Homo sapiens: one gene and its partners. The protein of the gene in region 2 purifies or fractionates together with the protein of the main gene of each other region. This does not show direct contact. Each region holds a gene or a part of one and is shown on either strand. Other genes may lie near its edges.

Region 1 (7,111 bases), on a different chromosome or scaffold from region 2:
ATTTGAAGTCTTCCTTACATTCACTTAAAGGGATCTTTTACTGCAAATTACATGGAAAGAATGAAAAGGTTTGCTTGTGTGTAATGACACATTTTATTCTGAAGATTTATTTTACCTAACAGTAAAATGTAGGTTTTTTTTTTTTAAATAAAAGTTTCCCAGAGGGAAATTTCATCTAAAAAAAAAGTCTGATTTCAAAGGGAAAGCAAGTCATTATCAAAAATTAGAAAACTATAAGTACAAAAAGTAAAAAATCATCAGTAATTTTGCCACTAAGATATTATTACTATAGACATTTTGGTGTATTCCATCTGTTCTTTTTTAATGCTTTTATAACACTATGTAGTTTTGTATTTTAAAAAACTTAAAGCAAAAATTTCTACGTATTATTAGACATACTGTGATTTATTTAACTAATCATTTTTTTGGGGTGTTAGGTTGTTTTTAATTTTTTACTGCCATCAAACATCTTGAACATAGGATGTAGATTTTAGTCTTTAAAATATGTTGGGGAATGAACAAATTTCACATCCTGTATTTGTAGTATTAATACTTTGTAGGTGCTCAAAATAGAATATTCTGGTAAATGATTAGTGCTTATTAAATATTTATCAAATGAATGTACTTGTACTTTTGGCATTAAACATTAACATCTGACCATTTATATTTACCTGATTTTTTTTCTATGGCCATATGGTATGAAATAGTGTATGGTATAAATTAACCATATGGTATAATAAATACATTTTTTTAAGTGTGATACCAGAGTGATATTTATTAACTGTTCTTCCTGTGCTGTTTCTGTAGAAGGGAGCTTCTCACAATTGCATTAGAATTACAATTTTATTATGTTCTGTTTTCAAGATCTCTGATCGTCAGTCTTAAACTGTTTAATTATAATAATGTATTGACTAGGGAATATTCTGGGATATAATCTCCTTTATAATGAGGTCCACTGTATTAAAATACATCTTTGCAAGCCACACCAGGTTGGATTGCATCATAACCCTGAAAAGTGGTATTCTCATTAATGCAGGTGCTTGTGCAGTTTTGGCTATTGCTGTTAATACTTATACAGATATATTCACAGGTGCCCTTGTGGCAAAAATCATAAAATAGTTGTTTGTCTTTGGTATTTCTAGTGTTCACTTTCTATATTCTTTTCTCTCTCCTTATTTACTGAACTCCCTTCTTTAGGCATCCACTCACTCCTTTTTCTGTTTAGAATATTATCTGTCAGTCATTTTATATGTTGGCCATTAAAGGAATAAACTGTCAGTAAACAGCTAAGAAAGGAATGTTGGACTGGGTGCTTGAATCCTTGAATGTAGTAAATGTGAGTGCAAACTTGATTTAATTGTACATGTATTTGGATAATAGGCCAGAAAAATTACATTAGGGTAACAGGCTAGAACAGTCTGACTTTTCTTGTTTTTCTATCCCTTGCTTTCTTGATTAGAATGAATAGGAGGTGGGTCTGGATATAGCAGCTGGAAACCTGTGTTCCATGAGTGATGGGGAAGAGAGGGAGGGAATAGGTTCCTCTGATTTTTGGCATTTTCTAAGACCTGATGCCCACCTTGTCAGAGAATGCGATGACTACTTTTGTGTTCTTCCTTTTCCCTTTTTCTCCCAATTATAAAATTGTTTTCTCTTTCAGAACTGCAGAAGTGCATTTTGTTTCTTTGACACTTTGATGTTGTTAATTTAGCTGAATACCTAGTGAACATTTTGTGTCATAATCCCCTTGTTTTATGAAATCCAGTATGGTCTAGTCACCTTACATTTCTGCCTCATATTGTCCTTAAGCCTTTTTTTGTCAGTAGCTCTTACTAGATTTTGTCTTCATCAGAAGTTAAAGTGTTTTAAGTCCTTTACTCATTCTGTTTCTCTATTTTAACTTACATTGGTTATTCTGTAAAGTCAGATGTGGCAGTAGGGCTGGTCGTGGTGGCTCACACCTGTAGTCCCAGCTACTTGGGAAGCTGAGATGGGAGCATCACTTGAGCCCTGAAGTTCGAGGCTGCAGTGAGCCATGATCGCACCACTGCACTCTAGCCTGGCAACAGAGTGAGACCCTGCCTCAAAACAAACAAACAAACAAACAAAAAAAAAACAAAAAAACTTGCTTGTAGAACTTCTGAATTCAAAATAGGTGGGCCTATTTGGGAGCTTTTCTGTTTTTAAGGTGTCAAGTACTGCTTTTTAAAATCATAAGGTTATGGATAACTTCATGTTAGTGTAAGAAGAAAAATATAGCCTCATTTGTTCCATTTCTTTCTTAAATTTTTTGTTTTCATTGCCATGTTTTTATTTTTCGATTTCAATTTTTCCAGCCTAAATCACTAACATACTTAATTAGCATGGTAATCAGAAGATACTCTTTAATACAGTCTCCACCCTAACATTAAGCAATTATTTTTCCCCCCTACCCTCTGAGATTATTTTTGTGTCCATGTTTTCTCTTGGGCTTAAAAAAAAAAACTATTATTCTAATTCCTTCCTGTATCAAGACTATGCATATAGAGGGAACTCAATGCCCAGTAACTTCTTTTTCTGGGCCCTGGTGATGTAGAATATAAAAATTGCTTTGAACTCAATTAACTTTATATCTTCTGGAAGCTCTGTAACATCGGATAAAGCGTCGTTTTCATTCTTGTAATGTAGCTGCAGTTCCTGACAGCACGTTTGGGACAAATGTACTGTGGGACGGTGGTTTTCAAAGTACGCCAGAGCTCTAGGAGAATTTTTCGAAAACATTCTATCATTGTAAATAATAATTTTTTTTTTTTTTTTTTTTGAGACGGAGTCTCGCTCTGTCTCGCAGACTGGAGTGCAGTGGCGCGATCTCAGCTCACTGCAAGCTCTGCCTCCCGGGTTCACGCCTTTCTGCCTTTCTCCTGCCTCAGCCTCCCCAGTAGCTGGGACTACAGGCGCCTGCCACCACGCCCAGCTAATTTTTTGTATTTTTAGTAGAGACGGGGTTTCACCGTGTTGGCCAGGATGGTCTCAATCTCCTGACCTCGTGATCTGCCCGCCTCAGCCTCCCAAAGTGCTGGGATTACAGGCGTGAGCCACCACACCTGGCCAGAATAAAAATTCCAAATTGCACTAATGCATATGTGAAACTGTTTTTGTCTGTTTTGTAGTTTTAAAATCTTCATCTATAATAGTACCTGGCACATAGGTACTAAAATATTTGGTGAAAGAATTAGTGAATAAAACCTTACTGGATATGAGGTGATCTGATTTTCTGTAACATTCTATTCTTTTTTTCTGCCGGTCACAAAATCACCTTATGAAATTGACAGCCAAATTGGCTGCAACAGGCAGTTTGAAAAACACTGTTTTGGGGTTTCAAGGACCTTCTTCAGAGGTTACCCCAGGGCTCTGTTTAGTGCCTCTATACCAGGGGCCCCCAACCCCTGGGCCACAGCCTCGTATCTACCAGTCCGTGACCTGTTAGGAACCTGACTACACCGCAGGAGGTGAGTGGCAGGCAAGTGAGCATTACCGCCAAAGCTCCACCTCCTGTCAGATCAGCGGCAGGAGCGTGAACCCTATCAGAAACTGTGCATGTGAGGGATCTAGATTGTGTGCTTCTTGTGAGAATCTAATGCCTGATGATCTGAGGTGGAACAATTTCATCCTGAAACCCCCTCTACCCCTGTCCATGGAAAAATTGTCTTCCATGAAATTGGTCACTGGTCCCAAAAAGGTTGGGGAGTGCTGCCCTATACCATAACTATTGAAGTTCTTCATTTATCTGCTTTACATGTTAGTTTCCTTGAAAAAAGGGTTTTATGGCTGTAAAAATTTTAGAGCTACTATGTATGGAAGAGAGGTTTGTGCTGGCATAAATCTTCTCAGGTATCATCTGTGTAGAAAATTTCAACAACTTGTGTCTTAAGGCAGAGGTCAGCAATCTTAAGGGTCAGATGGCAAATATTTTAGGCATTGTGGGACATACAGTTCCTCTCACAATTCCTCAACAATACTGTAGTAGCTCAGAAGTAGCTAATAGACAATATTTAAACAAATGAGTTTGACTCTGTTCCAGTAGTCATTTTCAGGACACTGAAATTTGAATTTCATATCATTTTCATGTGTCATGAAAATCTTCTTTTGATTTTTTTTCTACCACTTAAACATGTAAAAAGTATTCTTAGCTTGTGAGCTATACAAAAGCAGATAGTGGGCCAGTTCATGGGCTGAACTGTTCTGACTCCTGGTCTAAGGGAGACTATATATGTTATATTTGAGGTTCTCAAAGTAAGATGTAGGTTAGAGGTCTATAGAAAGTTCATAATTGCTTTTGTAAAAACTAGATTGATTTATTTGAGAGGGAGAGAGAGGTGGAGTTTCACTGTATTGCCCAGGCTGGACTTGAACTCTGGGCTCAAGCAATCTTCCAGCCTCAGCCTCCCAAGTAGCTAGGACTACAGGCATGCACCAAGCCCAGCTCCTAGTTCCTCTTTGCACTCAGTTTCATCTTCTACCCTCAGCCCCTGGCAAACACTGGTCTGATCTCTGTGCCCTTTCCAGAAAGTCATATAAATGGAGTCATATAAAAGTCATATCAGTGGGGCCGGGCATGGTGGCTCACACCTGTAATTTCAGCACTTTGGGAGGCTGAGGAGGGCAGATCACCTGAGGTCAGGAGTTTGAGACTGGCCTGGCCAACATGGTGAAACCCCCTCTCTACTAAAAATACAAAAATTAGCCGAGCATGGTGGTGGGCACCTGCAATCCCAGCTACCTGGGAGGCTGAGGCAGGAGAAACACTTGAACCCGGGAGAGGGAGGTTGTAGTGAGCCGAGATCGCGTCATTGCACTCCAGCAATTGTGAAGCAGTGGTTAAGGTTCATTCATTATTTTACATATGGATGTCCAGTTGTTTCACATTTATCAAATTTCTTTTGAATCACCTTGGCACTTTTATTGAAATCAATTGCTTATGTTTGTGAGTTTTGGATTCTACTGTTTTATTGATCTGTGTGTGTTTTCTTAGGCTAATACCCCACTACCTTAGTTATGATAGCTTTATAGTTAAATTTAAAATCAGGTAGGTCCAGTTGAGAAGATTTTTAGAACTTTGACTTTTTAATTTCTTGTTACCATACTTTTGGAAGGAGAAGACTCATAATTTTATTCAGGTTTTCAAAGGTGTCTTCTACCCCCAAATACTTAAGACTTCAGTATATAGTTAATATATCTCTGTCTTGAATTATGTGGTGGTGAGGTTCATGAAAAGTGACAGGTAAAAGTTGCAACCAAAATTAATTTCCTTATAAGAAAGGACATATTTTAGTAGGTTGCACAGAAAAGTCAATCACGTCCTTTTTACCGTGTTGCATTATGAGGTGTAATCAAAATGTGTATAGGGGAAAATGAATATGTTAAGATGTTTATTCACCAAAAAAAGTCACCGAAAGTGTCAATTAGGTTGTGAAAGATACTAGTTTACAATGTGTTATTCTCCATCTTCATTAGAAGAGTTCTTCCATTTGAAACCTATGTCATGTTCTGTGATATTTCAGAGTTAGTATCTTTATGAATCTTAGGGGCATCATTAAATCATTATGTTTCTTCTAAGGAAAGGCATATGGTAGTAGTTGGTCATATTTCTACCTTTTTCAGTGGGGCCTATAGGGCCCCTTTACTTTGTTTTAAACTGCACTGATAGCTTTTTACTGGTTAGCCCAGGGAATTATCCCTACAGTGTAAAATGATGTTTCTCATCATGATTTTCATTTAATAATTTAAAAACAAAATAACAGGAAACACATGTTTCTAGAGAGGAAGTGTGGAATACCTGACTAGTAGAGGGTCAGGTGACAATTGCGAAGGTAGAAACTGACTAAGTTTTGACCATGTTGCAAGGAGTATCGTTCCAGTTTTGTTGGGTCACCTTGCAGAGTTTTTAAAAAAAATCCTTGGGTTTTTTTTGTTTGTTTGTTTGTTTGTTTTGGTAGAGATGCTGTGTTGCTCAGGCTAGTCTCGAAATCCTGGGCTCAAGCAGTCCTTCCCAGAGTGCTGGGATTACAGGCATGAGCCACCGCACCCAGCATCACCTTGCCGATTTTGAAACTACACTTCCAGGGAGAGAGTAATACAATATCTTGGCAGACTATTTTTAACTATTGTTCCAAAATTAATCTGTTTTTAAAAAGTAAAGAAGTGTGGATATCTTTAAAAGATACTTTAATTAGGCTGGTCACGGTGGCTCATGCCTGTAATCCCAGCACTTTGGGAGGCCAGGATGGGTGGATCACCTGAGGTCAGGAGTTCGAGACCAACCTGACCAACATGGAGACACTCCGTCTCTACTAAAAATGCAAAAAATTAGCCGGGCATGGTGGCGCATGTCTGTAATCCCAGCTACTTGGGAGGCTGAGGCAGGAGAATTGCTTGAACCTGGGAGGCGGAGGTTGCAGTGAGCCGATATTGCGCCATTGCACTCCAGCCTGGGCAACAAGAGTGAGGGAAACTCCGTGTCAAAAAAAAAAAAAAAGATACTTTAATTATATTTAAGTTGGGGAATACTTTTGTTTTATATTTTTTCTTGCACTAAATATGTAACCTTTAAGTTAATAACACCAGAAAATTTTTACTTTATAGTTTTAGAACTGCTTAATTGAAATAAAATGTTAGGATACTTTGAATTAGTCACTTATTTTGGCATATTTTAAACAGTTTAATGTACTGCTTGGGGTTGTTTCTCAATTGACTTGATATTTTTAAACTGTATTTTTTACCTTGTACCATTTATTTTGCAAAATAAATTTCTATTTTGGCTTATAGATGTATTTTTAATATTAAAGGGGATTATTGGTGTCAGCCATAAAATTGTAATTAAGTCTTAAGTAGGTATGGTTTTTTTTTTTTTTTTTTTTTGGAGACGGAGTCTCGCTCTATCATCCATGCTGGAGTGCAGTGGTGTGATCTCGGCTCATTGCAACCTCCGCCCCCCCCCCCCCCCGGGTTCAAGTGATTCTCCTGCCTCAGCCTCCAGAGTAGCTGGCACTACAGGCGCATGCCACCATGCCCGGCTAATTTTTTTGTATTTTTGGTAGAGATGGGATTTCACCATGTTAGCTAGGATGGTCTC
Region 2 (7,111 bases):
TGGTGGCCTGATATTCAATCTGTGAGATGGGAGCCTGTTGGGAGGACCCCCTCTTTTTTGCTGAGAGGTTTCTTTTAATGAATTCCACTCTCCTCACCTTTCAATGTGTCCGCATGCCTAATTTTTCCTGGTCATGAGACAAGAACCTGGATTTTAGCTGAGCTAAGGAGCAAAAAATTCTGCATCACCACCACACGCTCCTAAGGCACCCGAGGATGCACCAAGGTGAAGGTGGTGTTTAACTGGCCCTGGCCCAGAAGGAGGCCAAGAAGGACGGGCCTCAGAGTGTCAGAGAAGTGCTCATCACCCATGGCCCTTGCCCAGCACCCCAGATGAAATGGTATCAACTGGCCAAAGAGGAGCCTGCTGTTCGTGTTGTTAAATAGCATTTTGGTGTCATCTTTGGAGGGGCATCCCCGTACAAATATTTTGCACTTCAACAAGATGACATATACTACTGTGGAATAAAGTAGATCAGATATAATGTCATCTTGAGTGAGCCTTCTGAAGACGCCCTAGCTGCTTGCCACCAGTCAATTGAGAAAAATATTACCATCTATTAAGAACTTGGAGGACGATGAGGTTGAATTCATCACTGCAAATTTGCAGACAGAGTCTGCAGACAGACAGTGATCCTGCCAGCAATGTTCATGACCTTAACAAGAAGCTCACAGCCTGTTTGTATCTTAGCCTGGACAAGTGCTGGGTGGTCCCTCTGAAGACTTCAATTGTTATGCTGCCCAAATACTGACTGGAGTTGCTTATTAACATCAAGGCTGTTCTGTCCCAATCCTATCTGATTCATGGACACATGGCTATCACTGATGGCACTGAAAACACCAAGCCCTGGAGTTTCTTTATATATCACTGTGCTGTGATAAAGGAAACTGAAAGCTGTCAGAATCAAAAGAGAGTCACAAATGTGAAGAAAACTCTGACAAATCGGGCCTGGGAAAGCCATGAAGAGAGGCTTCTTGGGCTTGTATGTCTGATAACAAAAACTACCACTAAAGACTGCAAAAACTGCAACCTTGTACGAAGGCCATGGCAACCTTATACAAAAATACTCCTACAAGGACATCTGCCTCAAACAACCTGTCTAACCTTGGACTGACATCACTCTTGTTACTCATCTCTGTAGCCAGGGAAAACTACTAAATATGTCAAAATAATTGTGTAATCCTCTTCATTTTTTCCTTTACCTCCCTGAATAAGCAAGCCATTCACCATGGCATGCATATTCCCAGTGCAACGCTCTATTTCCAAATAAACATCTTTTGAGAGCCTCTCTCTCTTATTTAGCCTGACAAAACTTACAAACACAGAGAATCCATTAAGGAGAAACCATGTAGAAATGAGAAGTCGGCCACTATAATTAAGACTTGGTTTTTTGAAAACAAGTTTGCTGTGGAAACTTTGATTTGTTCTTAATAGTCAAGAAAAACATTATGAGGAAAGATTTAATACCACAGCATAGCACAACTATTTGTATTTTCAGCAGTGATTTTTTTAAAAAAAATTATCTTCTTTCATGTAAATAACATGGGGCTTTACTTTCTTTTCATCTCATAAATCAATGAAAACCATTATCTTTAAGAAAAAAAAAAGACTGAAAGGAATGAAAAGGGTGAGCAGTGGGGTGAGGATAGATATTTTCTTATTTATGCCTCCCTGTTCCTTCCCCATTCCCGGGCAATGCATATCATTTTCATCTCTAGCTAGACACGTGCAGGTGGCAGAGCTCCTCACCGACCCCATTTCTCAGGTGGGTGAGTGAAGGGCAGCCATGCCACATGCCCCACCCCACCTCCAGCCCTACTGCTCCACCCAGGGCAGGTACTACTTACACTGACTTCCTTCCCCAAGCTGACAGAAGTCAGGACACGCTTCATTCCTTCCCCGCTTCCAATCTGCCAGATGGATGCCTCTGCAGCCTGGTTCTTCAAGGGCCAGTCTCTTGCTTGCAGCTCATACCAAACAGTCCTGCAGAGACCCAGCCATGTCTGTGAGCTCCTGGGCCGCTGTGCCCAGCTCAAGCCCAGGGGCCCTTGAGCCATAGCCCAGCCAGAGGATCAGGACCCTTCTCCAGCCTTCCTCACCCACTTGGCTTCAGGGGATGCTACAGTGGGCTCCTGGAGGCTCCTCCCAGCCCTAGAGGACCTGGGCCCTGTGCTCTCGTTGGGTGGGAAGTCTGAGACAGCGCAGGTTTGACCGGAGCCTTGGTGGTCATTCTGACCTCAGCACAAATCCAGCTCTGCCACCTTCTAGCTGCAAGATCCCAGTAAAACTGCTTCACCTCAGTGGGGCTAATGTCTCTTGTCACAGGGTTGTTTGAGGAGTACTAAATTGCCAAGCCCAGCACCTGGCACACATGGGTGCTCAGGAAAGGATACAGTTAAAGGTCAGGGAGGAAGGATGGCGCCAAGGCCACCCCACTGGGAAGGATACCCAGATACAGCACAGGTGACCGGGGTGGTGAGCCTTCCTTGGCCTCTCTACGTCCCCTTGGCTTTCTTCACTTGGGATGGGACTTTCTCCATCAGACCCACACTGTCCAATGTGGGAGCCTCTTGCCACAGGGGGGCTACTGAGTGACTGAAATGTGCACAGTTGAATGGAGGGGTGCTCTAGGCAGAAAACACACCAGATTTTAAAGACTTAGTAGGAAAAAAGAATATAAAATATCTTATTAATTTGTATATTGATTACATGTTGAAATAATATTTTGGATATATTGAGTTAAATAAAATATATCGTTTTATAATATATAAAACATAAACAGGGGAAACTAATTTCATCCATTTCTTTTTTAATGTGGCTATTAGAAAACTTTAACTTCTATATCGGGCTCACATTATATTGCTACTGGTCAGCACCCAGGTCTTTGTGGGGTAGCAGAGCCGGCAGGATATCCAGCTCCCCCAGACTGGGAGGAGCAGTTCTTGGTCAGCTCTGGTGAGCATCCTCCCAGATCAGCTGGGTGGGGCTGACAGCCAGTGTTAAGCACTGCACACAATTACCTGATTTAGTCCTCATGAAATGACCTTGTTGGGAGGAGCTATTCCAGGTCAAGGATATAGTCATGCACTCAACAAGCGGCAGAGCCAGGACTCAAGACCATGCACTCAACAAGCGGCAGAGCCAGGACTCAAGGTTGATTTTTTACTCCAGAGCCTGGGTTTTCAACACCTAAAAGCATGCCTCCCTCTGCCCCCAATGGCCACCAGGGCCCTCTGTTTTGGCCACACTTGGCCTCAGGGCACCAGGGGCCTACTCACCCAAATGCATAGACATCAGCAGCTTTGGAGAATGGCAGCTGATCCTCGTCCTTCCCGGGGGTCATCTCGCGTACAATCTCAGGGGCCAGATAGCACAGCCAGTCGTGGGACAGCTTTAGCTGGTTCTCACGCCTGGAGACCAGGAAGCCGGGACAAGGACACAGGCCTTTCAGCAGGCAGCAAAGAGGCCTGCCTGGCACAGGTCTGCCCCAGGGCCGGCAGAACACCCACACACAGCTTAGAAAACACACCCAGACCCAGAACACTGACCCTGCACTTGGGAAAGGCACCGGTGCTTTTGAGGAATTCTACAAAGGAGTCATGACCGGTTGTTTCTAGAAAAGCAGGGCAAGAATGGATAAATATTGACAGGGAGCTGCTGGTGAAGGTGCCCAGCTCCCTCTGCTGGAGAATGAGGCGCCTCTCTAACCAGGAACCCTGATCTGCCTGTGGATCTCAAACTTGGCTGGGGCTGGCCTTGCAGCCTTGCTGCCATGCTCCCTTTTGGGTTCCCCTAGATGTGAGGGGAGGGGCCTTTCTCCCTATGCCAATCCCTTCAAGATTTGGGGAAATAAAATTTGACACTCTTCCTCATCGTGGGGAAATGACCTGGTTCCTTGGCCAAGCGGGTGAACAGCCAGGGCAAATGTGAGTGTGGGGACCTGGTTTCCGTGGAAGTCGGCCTGAGAATCCAAACGCGACCCAAATCTGATTCTGAACCAGAACTACGAGGGCAGGACCAAAGCGACCTGGGCTTCCCTGCAGGGAGGGCTGCAGCTCAGCAACAAACAGTGAAAGTGCCCAGACCTCAGCCCTGCTCTTCCCCATCCAGCACCCACAACCCACCCAGACACTCAAGACCAACTCACCGTCCCTCTCGGACCACGCCTGAGATCCCAAACAGCCCGAAGTCTGTGATGACCACCTTGCCGTTGTCATAGAAGACGTTCTTAGATTTGAGATCTTTGTGTACGATGCCCTTGGCATGAAGATATCCCATGCCCTGGAGGACACATCAGGAGGAGTGAAGATGTGCAACGATGACGGAGGTGCCACCCTGGGCTGGATGATTTACCTAAATCCCCATATTTGATCTTCACAATTCCATGCAGTATATTGTCCCCATTTTACAGAAGAAGAAATCGAGGTTCAGAGAGGGAAAGTCACTTGCTCCAAGCCACACAGCAGTGAAGAAGCAGAGCTGAGATCTGATCCCAGACCGGTCTATGCTCTTTTAATGTTACCATGCTTCTAAACAACCATGTTAACCTTGGCTAAGGTAGGAGGTGTGAACAGGGTGATGGGCAGGGAGCCGGGGGGTCAGGGACAGTGAGATTTATCAGTGTACAGTCATAAAGGGCCTAAATGAGCTGGGGTTTTCTGTCAGGATATGCACAGCTGGTCTGTGCTCTCAGGCAGGACAAGGGCTCAAGGTGGGGGAACAGAGAGGCATTCCCACAGCGGGGTCCCCAACTTTGAGTGCTCCTAATGTCTGAGCTGTAGTAGAAGGAGCCCTGGACTAAGAAATCTGGGGTTTGAACTCCATCTCAGCTCAGATTCTCACTCACTCTGTGGCCTTGGACACAGTGCTCAACTTCTCTGAAGACTGGTTTCCTCACCTATCAAGCGAAGAGGTGGCAGTGGGTGATTTCTAACCAATGCTCTATTTGAACTAACACTGATGAGTCAGGTGCATGGAGCGTGGGTGACCTGACATAGGCATGATCTCATCCAAGGTCAAGCTGTCTTCAAACACCAGACCCAGGGCTCCTGTGTACCCCACAGCATGGATTATCGCGTTTTTAACCTCACACCAATCCAGAGAGGGAGGATATATGAAGATCCCCATTTTACAGGGGAGAAAACTGAGGCTTAGAGAGGCTAAACCTACCCAAGGTCACACAAAGGGTGTGACCAGGATTGAAACTGGCCTCTAAAGCCTGCCAAGTTCCTTCCCAACCAAGTCAATTCCATCAAGCCTAATCATGTGGACAATCAGCTCCCAGCTCTGAATGAATGAGACAGAGACAGGGAGGAAGAGATGGGGTCCCACCCTTGAGGAGCCTGAGCTAGAAGGAGAGGCAAAGCTGCCCAAACCACCCTAACAGGGAGTAACAGGGCGAGAGGAACAGCCGAGAGCCCTGGAACCGGCCAGAAACCCACCCCCAGCAGCTGGGCACCCCCTCACCTTGATGATCTCCTGAGCGATTTGCCTCGTCTTGTTGATGTCCAGAGACGTCTTGGGGTCCCTCACAAACGAGTGCAACGTCCGCCCCTTGCAGAAGCTGTCGAGGGTGGTGGGGGTCAAGCACAAGTCTGGGGCTGGTGCGGCCTGACCCCAACCCTGGTGGAGCCCATGGGGAGAACTGTGCCCGTCTGCCTGCAAGGACTCTCTCCAGCCCCTCGACTGTGAGCCAAATCTTCTTTAACCCAGCCCAGTCCTGCTGGGGCCTGGCCTGAACGTGCAGAAACACATGACACCACACACGTACACGCACACAAACCCCCATTCCCTGAGAGCCAGTGCCTGCCCATCCTACAACAGGAAACAGTGCATCAAAGCTCTCAGGAACTCAGAGTAGCCATGCTTGGTGGGTTCAAGGCAGGACCACTCTGATGGGGAAGAACTTGGCTAATTTAAGGGCATCAACAGGCAACATCAAGGCTCTGGGGCTCACTGTCAAGAATCTCATTATAGTTTTCATTTTTTCTTGATCACAGGGTTTTTATTACAATAAAGGAGTGTGCAAGGAGGGAAAGGGGGTGGGGTAGATGTTAGGGGCGTCAAGGTGACTACTGGAAAAGGAGCTTCAGTTCTGGGGTCGCCACCTGCATCAACTCCTAAAACCCCGGGTGAGGAGGGACCCAGAGAGAATGTGGGTCCAAGGGAGCTATCTTAGGAAGGGACTATGTTTTTAGGAAAATATTCTTGGAGTCTCAGAGCCTTTGAAAACCAGGCAAGGGGTAGAGAATATTGGTTGGTGATTTCCTTATCTGTGTCCCACTTTTCTTCAGCGTATTCTAAACAAAGTAAGATTTTTTTGTTAATGAATATTTTCCTGTTTCAGGCAGGCCACAGTGGCTCACGCCTGTAATCTCAGCACTTTGGGAGGCTGAGGTGGGCGGATCACCTCAGGTCAAGAGTTTGAGACCAGCCTGGCCAACACGGTGAAACCTCATCTTTACTGAAAATATAAAAATTAGCGAGGCGTGGTGGCACACGGCTGTAATCCCAGCTACTTGGGAGGCTGAGGCACGAAAATTGCTTGAGCCTGGGAGGCAGAGGTTGCAGTGAGCCAAGAACACGCCACTGCACTCCAGCCTGGGTGACAGAGCGAGACCCTGTCTAGTTTATCATTAATTAATTACCTGTTTTGTTTTTCATTAACTACTTTTTTTTTTTTTTTGAGATGGAGTCTTGTTCTGTAAATAAATTACGGGACCACCAGTGATCAGCTCTTGATTATACAACTCTTCCCAACTCTACTCCACTCCAGGAGATAACATTGGTAGTCTGAAATTGACCATGGTGAGAGTATTTACACCACAGGAAGTGATGGATGTTATAAATTAGGGCTTCCCTCCATACTGCCCCAAAACTGGTTGTTACACATTTACCAGCACACCACTGGGTTCAGCCTACGTGATGGGGATACTGTGCAGGTGTTAGAAGAGAGTAGACCTCAGACCCACAATCGGGTGCAGGAGGCAAGGTGTGAGCCAGCATGATCTCTCCTTTGTATTTTTACAAAAAGGAATAAACAGTTTAAAAACGTGAGTATATGCAAATGTCTTCCTTTTAACAGAAGGAATGTTAACTGTTTATAGTGTCT
Region 3 (7,111 bases), on a different chromosome or scaffold from region 2:
TAAAAGCAAAAGTACTTTGAAAACTGTCAGCTACTCTACAAAGCATTATTTTAAATAAAACTTCAAGCCAGCATTAAGAAAAAAAATGGAATTAAAAAAGACTAACCAATGAAAAGAAATAGAAATTAGAACTAATTCATTATAATGTCTGGTTCAACTAGATGTTAATAAGAAACCTTTTGTTTAAAGCTGTTGCTGAAAATCTTTCTAATCAGTACACTGTCTAAACAGTGTGTCTAAACAGTAACACATTTCAGAGCATGTGTTAATAGTAAGTATAATGAAAATCATTTCATTTTTTCTTGAAGATTCTAGATAGCTTTCTAATTTTTCTCCTAGAGAATGAAAACAGAAGAAAACTTCTGGTTGTTTGTGGATTCCAGTAATTGGGTTTTAGTTTTGCCACACTGGCTTTTGAAAATGTAATAGGAGTTGATAGACTAGTATAATCCAGAGTAACAATCTGGGAAGTAGATGGCTATAGTGGTAGGAAAATAGTGGCCTGGATCCTGGAAACACCTTAGAAAACTTGCACTCAGATGGAACTTAATCCTGGTTGTCACAGTATCCAAACTTTTGTCCTGCTACCTTCCGAACTCCTCAGAGACTGCTACCTGATTTGAACCCAGATGGACCGACCTCAGCTGTTGTCCAGTTAAAAAAAATACAACACTTTGGATTGCAAAACAAAACAAGACTTGTCCAAATGAAAAGTCCATCTTCAAGGCTTATTCATTCATTCAACAAATATTTATTTAGCATTTACCAAGTCTTTGGCAGTATTCCAAGTGCTGAAGATATAATGTTAAAAATGACAGACAAGGCCGAGCGCGATGGCTCACGCCTGTAATCCCAGCACTTTGAGAGGCCAAGGCAGGCGGATAATGAGGTCGAGAGATGCAGACCATCCTGGCCAACATGGTGAAATCCTGTCGCTACCAAAAATAAAAAATTTAGCTGGGTGTGGTGGCAGGTGCCTGGAGTCCCAGCTACTTGGGAGGCTGAAGCAGGAGACTCTTGAACCTGGGAGTTGGAGGTTGCAGTGAGTCAAGATCGTGCCATTCCACTCCACCCTGGGTGACAGAGTGAGGCTCCATCTCAAAAAAAAAAAAGACAGACATGGTCTCTACTCTCATGAAATTTCCATTCCACTGGAGAAGCCGGACAATTAAAGACTGTGATTAGTGGTGTGAAGGAAATACAAAAAGAGTAACTGGAGTTGTGGTAGGAACAGGGACACGAACAGCTTCTTTAGGCAGTGATCAGGGAAGGCCTCATTGAGTGAATGACATTTGAACTGAAACCTGAATGATGGGGAGAACATATGCAGCCAGCAAGGTGAAGACAATAGATGGGGGAGTTTTCCAGGTAGAGGAAAGCAAATGCAAAGGCCCTGAGGAAGGAATAATACAGCTAGGAAGTAAGTGAGAAGCATGCGATGACACAGAGATGAGTAGTAGTCAGATTAAATACGGATTAATAACAATGCTAAAGGATTTTAATTTTATTCTATGTGTGATACAAAGCCAAACATTATTATATAAAAGTGTGTTTGCAAGATCAGATATATTTCATGTACTAAATGAGTACTTTGGCCAGGTGCGGTGGCTCATGCCTATAATCCCAGCACTTTGGGAAGCTGAGGTGGGCAGATCACTTGAGGCCAGGAGTTCTAGACCAGCCTGGCCAACATGGTGAAACCCTGTCTCTACTAATAATACAAAAAAAAAACAAAATTAGCCAGGCGTGGTGGCGCGTGCCTGTAGTCCCAGCTACTCCGGAGGTCTGAGGCATGAGAATCACCTGAACCCAGGAGGTGGGGGTTGCAGTGAGCTGAGATTGCGCCATTGCACTCCAACCTGGGACAGAATGAAACTGTGTCTCAAAATAATAAAATAAAATGAGTTCTTAATTGTTTATATGTGCATAATGGCCACAAAATGAAAAGGAAGGGAAAGGTTCTCATACCTAAAAGGCTTGTAATCTTACAAGGAAGCAATAATTTATAAATAGTGACAACATTAAGTAAGGTAAGAAATGAAGCAAAAATCAAGTGTTAAGTATAAAGACTGGGGAGGCAGCCACTGATTCAAGTAGAAGAAATTAGAAAAGGCTTTTTTTTATTAAAAAAATTTAAAAAGGTAGCATTTGATTTGGGCTCTTAAGGAAAAGGATTTCAACAAGAGGGTGGGGAAGGGGAGGAGCATGAGGCTGTGGTAACTGCATGAGCAAAGGCACAGAGGCAGGAAAGAACTGGGCAGGTCCAGGAAACAGAGAATTATTGTAGGGTCACAGTGCCAGGTGGGTGGGTCGTGTTGTGGGAGATAAGCCTAAAAGAATAGGCTGTCAGAGTGGGGGTGTGGGTGTCTTGAAGAGCATGTCAGAAAGCTAGACTGAATTTACTTAGGCATTGTCTCCCCTTAAGTTTGTATATAAATCTCTTGAGGTACTTGATAAACTTCAGGTTCCCAGGCCCATCCCTCAGACACACTGATCTGCAGGTCTAGGTGGGACCTGAGACTCTACCTTTTTAACCACTGCCAGGTAATTCTAACACAGGCAATTAAAGGAACCATATTTTGAAAATCAGTGCTTTTTTTTTTTATGACAACTCTGATAACTTTTCTGCAAGGGAAAAACTGAAGCCAACTCTAAGGATTACTCAAGGACTCAAGGACTCTGGCAAAAAACTAAAAGGGGAATCTGAATTAGAAGACTGATTAAAGAACTCTTATCACCCCTGGGGCAGAATCAGCCAAACTTGGGGATTGATCAAATGTGGGTGGAGAAAAGTATTAAAGTGGTAAGTACAACCTCAAGCTTTCTCCTTAGTGAATCTGGGTGTACGCAGATGCATGGCGTACAGGGACTATCCACATAGCCTAACAGGTAGCTGGAAATACAGATCTGGAACTCAGATATACAAAGGCATTAAACATATTGGTTTGGTACTTCAAAGTAAGTTCAATACAAATTAAAGAATTAAATATAAAGTGTAAAACGGTAAAAATCAGAAGGAAATGAAAGTGAGTATTTAACCAATCTCTGGATGGTGAAGGCCTTCTAAACATCACAGCACCAGAAGAAATCTCAAATTTAAAAATCCAGGCTGGGTGTGGTGGCTCACGCCTGTAATTGTAACACTTTGGAAGGCCGAGGCGGGCAGATTACCTGGGTCAGGAGTTCAAGACCAGCCTGGCCAATATGGAGAAACCCTGTCTCTACTAAAAATACAAAAATTAGCTAGGCGTGGTGGCATGTGCCTGTAATCCCAGCTACTTGGGAGGCTGAGGCATGAGAATCACTTGAACCCTGGAGGAGGAGGCTAGAGTGAGCCGAGATTGTGCCACTGCACTCCAGCCTGGGTGACTGAGTGACACACTGTCTCAAAAAAAAAAAAATCTATAGATAAGTAATAATATACTATATACAAAATTAAAAGGCAAACTGGTTAAATATTTGACCACAGGACAAAAAATTAATATTCTTAGAAGAGTTTATACCAATCTCAAAGAAAAACACTAAGAATGGTTCTGTATGAAGTAGAAGAAGTTGTTAAATAACTTGCCTTGGAGACGTACACCCTCTAGTCACAAAATGAGACATTTTTCACATACATTGTAGATAATCGAGTTTTGTGGCACAGGTCAGCAGGGCTTCTGTGATTTTATCTTACCAGTTTCCAAGTGTCAGTCTATGGGAGTGCCTAAAAAAATACCAATCTTTTTGACTTCTTTTTTTTTCTTTTCTTCCCCCAACCCCCACAGCAAGAACCCCATTCAATTTTTTTTTTATACTTCTATTTTCCTGAAAGTTAAAGGGCACAAACAAATTAAGCTGTCCCCAGGCTCCCCTTGCTACTCCGGTGGACACTGCCTTTACTGCATCCAGTCTTTCCTCAGGCTCTATATATCTAAAATTAGGTGAAAGGTTAGAGATGAGACAGAAAGTAATTCCAGAATGTCTAGTGAACAGTAGTAGCTCCAAAGGCATCCTTTCAGCACAGAGGTTGTCCAGTCTTGGGGATCAAAAGCCCAACCCTCTCATTTTACAGATGAGGCTCTGAGTCAATGAATCAATGACTTGTCCAAGATCACCTGATTGGTTGATGACAACATTAAGTTGGGAATCCTGACTCTCAAATAGCACCCTTTCCATTCTGCAGTACTGCTTCATTGATCACAAGCTCTGGCCCCTCAAAACAATGGGCATTTATAACACCACAATTCCAACTTCTGTATACTTTCCACTTTGTCACTCCATTCACTCTATTTGGTCTAATAAAAGCCTGTGCTTCCCCCACAAAACGCTCCAAATAAAAGAATACCAAACAAAAAACCAACATAATTAAAATGTTAACGCCCAAATAAAAATGGGAGTGGGATTAACCCAGACATAATTCACAGAAGAAACAGAAATGAATGTATGAAAAATGTTCTCTCTCACTAGCAAAGAAATACAAATTAATTCATTTCTGCCTATCAAATTAGTAAAGATTAAAAAATAATATTCGGGCCGGGCGCGGTGGCTCATGCTGTAATCCCAGCACTTTGGGAGGCCGAGGTGGGCAGATCTCCTGAGGTCAGGGGCTTGAGGTCAGCCTGATCAACAGGGTGAAACCCTGTCTCTACTAAAAAACACAAAAATTAGCCAGACGGGCTGGGCGAGGTGGCTCATGCCTGTAATCCCAGCACTTTGGGAGGCCGAGGTGGGCGGATCACAAGGTCAGGAGATTGAGACCATCCTGGCTAACACGGTGAAACCCCATCTCTACTAAAAATAAAAAAAAAAATAGCCAGGTGTGGTGGCGGGCACCTGTAGTCCCAGCTACTCAGGAGTCTGAGGCAGGAGAATGGCATGAACCCGGGACGTGGAGCTTGCAGTGAGCAGAGATCGTGCCACTGCACTCCAGCCTGGGCGACAGAGCGAGACTCCATCTCAAAAATCATCATAATAATAATATTCAATGTTACCAAGGCCGCACTAAGATGGGCACTCACAATCACTGCAGTTGAGAATGTTAATTAGTCTAATCTTTACAAAAAGCAATTTGGGAGCAGGTTTAGTATTTTTAAATTTTCACACTCCTTGACCTGGTAATTCAACCTCTGGGAATCTAACCTAAGGAAATAATGAGTCATTTGCACAAAGATTTATGCATAAATTTGTTCTCAATTGTTTTCATTTAATGTAAAACCAAAACACAAATAAATTATGCAACCTCAATATAATAAATTATTAAATAGATTACAATGGAGATTAAATATCCATTTAAATGTTTTCAAAAATTTTTGATGCTATGAAAAATAATATAAAGCAAAAAAAGCAGACACAAAACTATATCTACTGCAACAGTATGAGTTCAATTACCTTTGTGTTTATGTGAGTGTGTGTATATCAAAGAAAACAAAACCACTGAAAGGAAATATATCAAATGATAGATCTCTCTGGAACAGATTATGGAATATGGGTTATTTTGTCTTCTTTATAATTTGTTTTTTCCACATTTTCTTTTTTTCTTTTCTTTTCTTTTTTTTTTTTTGATATGGAGTCTTGCTTTGTCACCCAGGCTGGAGTGCAGTGGCATGAGCTTGGCTCTCTGCAACCTCTGCCTCCTGGGTTCAAGGGATTCTCCTGCTTCAGCCTCCTTAGTAGCTGGGACTACAGGCATGCGCCACCATGCCCAGCTAATTTTTGTATTTTTAGTAGAGATGGGGTTTCACTATGTTGGCCAGGCTGGTCTCGAACTCCTGACCTCAAGTGATCACCCGCCTCAGCCTCCCAAAGTGCTGGGATTACAGGCATGAGCCATCACACCCGGCCTGTTTTTTCCACATTTTCTATAATAAACATATATAATTTTTATTTTATAATAATATAAATATCTATAATTTTTATTTTTAAATGTGTTGGCATATATGAAAATAAAACAATTATATATACAATATGAAAGAAGTTTTTTAAAAAGATAAATTTTCAGGCCACTTACATGGAGGTGATAGTGGAAGTCATGGAAAGAAATCAGATTATAAAGGGAGAAAGTATAGTGAGAATAGGAAGCTGAGCAGGGCTATGGTGAACCCGGCATTTAAGGGGCAAAAAGACTGAGTTAATGGATCATGGGAGTAAGTGGTTAGATTAGAAAATGGAGAACCAGATAGTAGTCATGTCAAGAAAAGCAAATGAAAGGAAGAACTAGACAAGTTGTTCACTTGGTCAGTTATTGCCAAGGGGTAAGGACCGTTAGACAGAAACCACTGGATACTATGCATGGACAGACAGCTTTCCTGTAGTGCTGGAAGCCAAATTTTTGCTCAGACGCCAAAGCTGAGCAAATGTTACCTGTTTAGTAAAACTGACTATGAAATAAAAGAAGTCCCGGGGCATTAGCTTGAATTTCAGTTTATGGAGAAAAAAAAGATTGTGGAAATCTAAAACTAAGTAAAGCGGATATTGGGACTAATTTATGGGTAATGAAACAAAAATGGCAATACTTTGTGCAAGACAAAACATATTTGAAGGACTGTAAAGTTTTCCATATCATAAACTCTGTTACAGAATAATTAAGGGGGAAAATAGATCCACACTTGTTATCAGAAGTACAAAAAAGTTGCATCTTTTTTTCCCCTAAAGATGAAAGTTCTTAGTTTCAGGGTAGTAGTATTTTTTTTTTTTTTTTTTTTTTTTTTTTGAGACGGAGTCTCACTCTGTCACGCAGGCTGGAGTGCAGTGGCGCGATCTCCGCTCACTGCAAGCTCCGCCTCCCGGGTTCACGCCATTCTCCCGCCTCAGCCTCCCGAGTAGCTAGGACTACAGGCGCCTGCCACCACGCCCGGCTAATTTTGTTTTTGTATTTTTAGTAGAGACTGGGTTTCACCATGTTAGCTAGGATGGTCTCGATCTCCTGACCTCGTGATCCTCCCGCCTCGGCCTCCCAAAGTGCTGGGATTACAGGCGTGAGCCACCGCGCCCGGCCCAGGGTAGTAGTATTAAGAAATTATTTAAAAGAACATCAAAAGAATGTAAAATTTTCATGGTATCATGTTAACTTCTTATGAGTGGACACAGGAAGTCTCTAGAAAGTTTTCACGTGTCAAGAAATCATCTGACA

The links.
Region 1: the proteins of KSR1 (region 2) and BRAF purify together in Homo sapiens (affinity purification with western blotting; 2 studies listed by BioGRID and IntAct, with this or other methods). This does not show direct contact.
Region 3: the proteins of KSR1 (region 2) and LIMA1 purify together in Homo sapiens (affinity purification with mass spectrometry; 2 studies listed by BioGRID and IntAct, with this or other methods). This does not show direct contact.

What each region holds. Positions count from the first base shown.
Region 1 is NC_000007.14:140,914,836-140,921,946, reverse strand, and holds part of BRAF (serine/threonine-protein kinase B-raf), read left to right. Parts: intron 1-7,111. UniProt on the Homo sapiens protein: Protein kinase involved in the transduction of mitogenic signals from the cell membrane to the nucleus. Phosphorylates MAP2K1, and thereby activates the MAP kinase signal transduction pathway. Phosphorylates PFKFB2.
Region 2 is NC_000017.11:27,606,366-27,613,476, reverse strand, and holds part of KSR1 (kinase suppressor of Ras 1), read right to left. Parts: intron 5,564-7,111; coding exon 5,467-5,563; intron 4,282-5,466; coding exon 4,148-4,281; intron 3,411-4,147; coding exon 3,279-3,410; intron 2,628-3,278; exon of another isoform or gene 2,100-2,627; intron 1,984-2,099; coding exon 1,848-1,983; intron 1-1,847.
Region 3 is NC_000012.12:50,273,482-50,280,592, forward strand, and holds part of LIMA1 (LIM domain and actin-binding protein 1), read right to left. Parts: intron 1-7,111. UniProt on the Homo sapiens protein: Actin-binding protein involved in actin cytoskeleton regulation and dynamics. Increases the number and size of actin stress fibers and inhibits membrane ruffling. Inhibits actin filament depolymerization.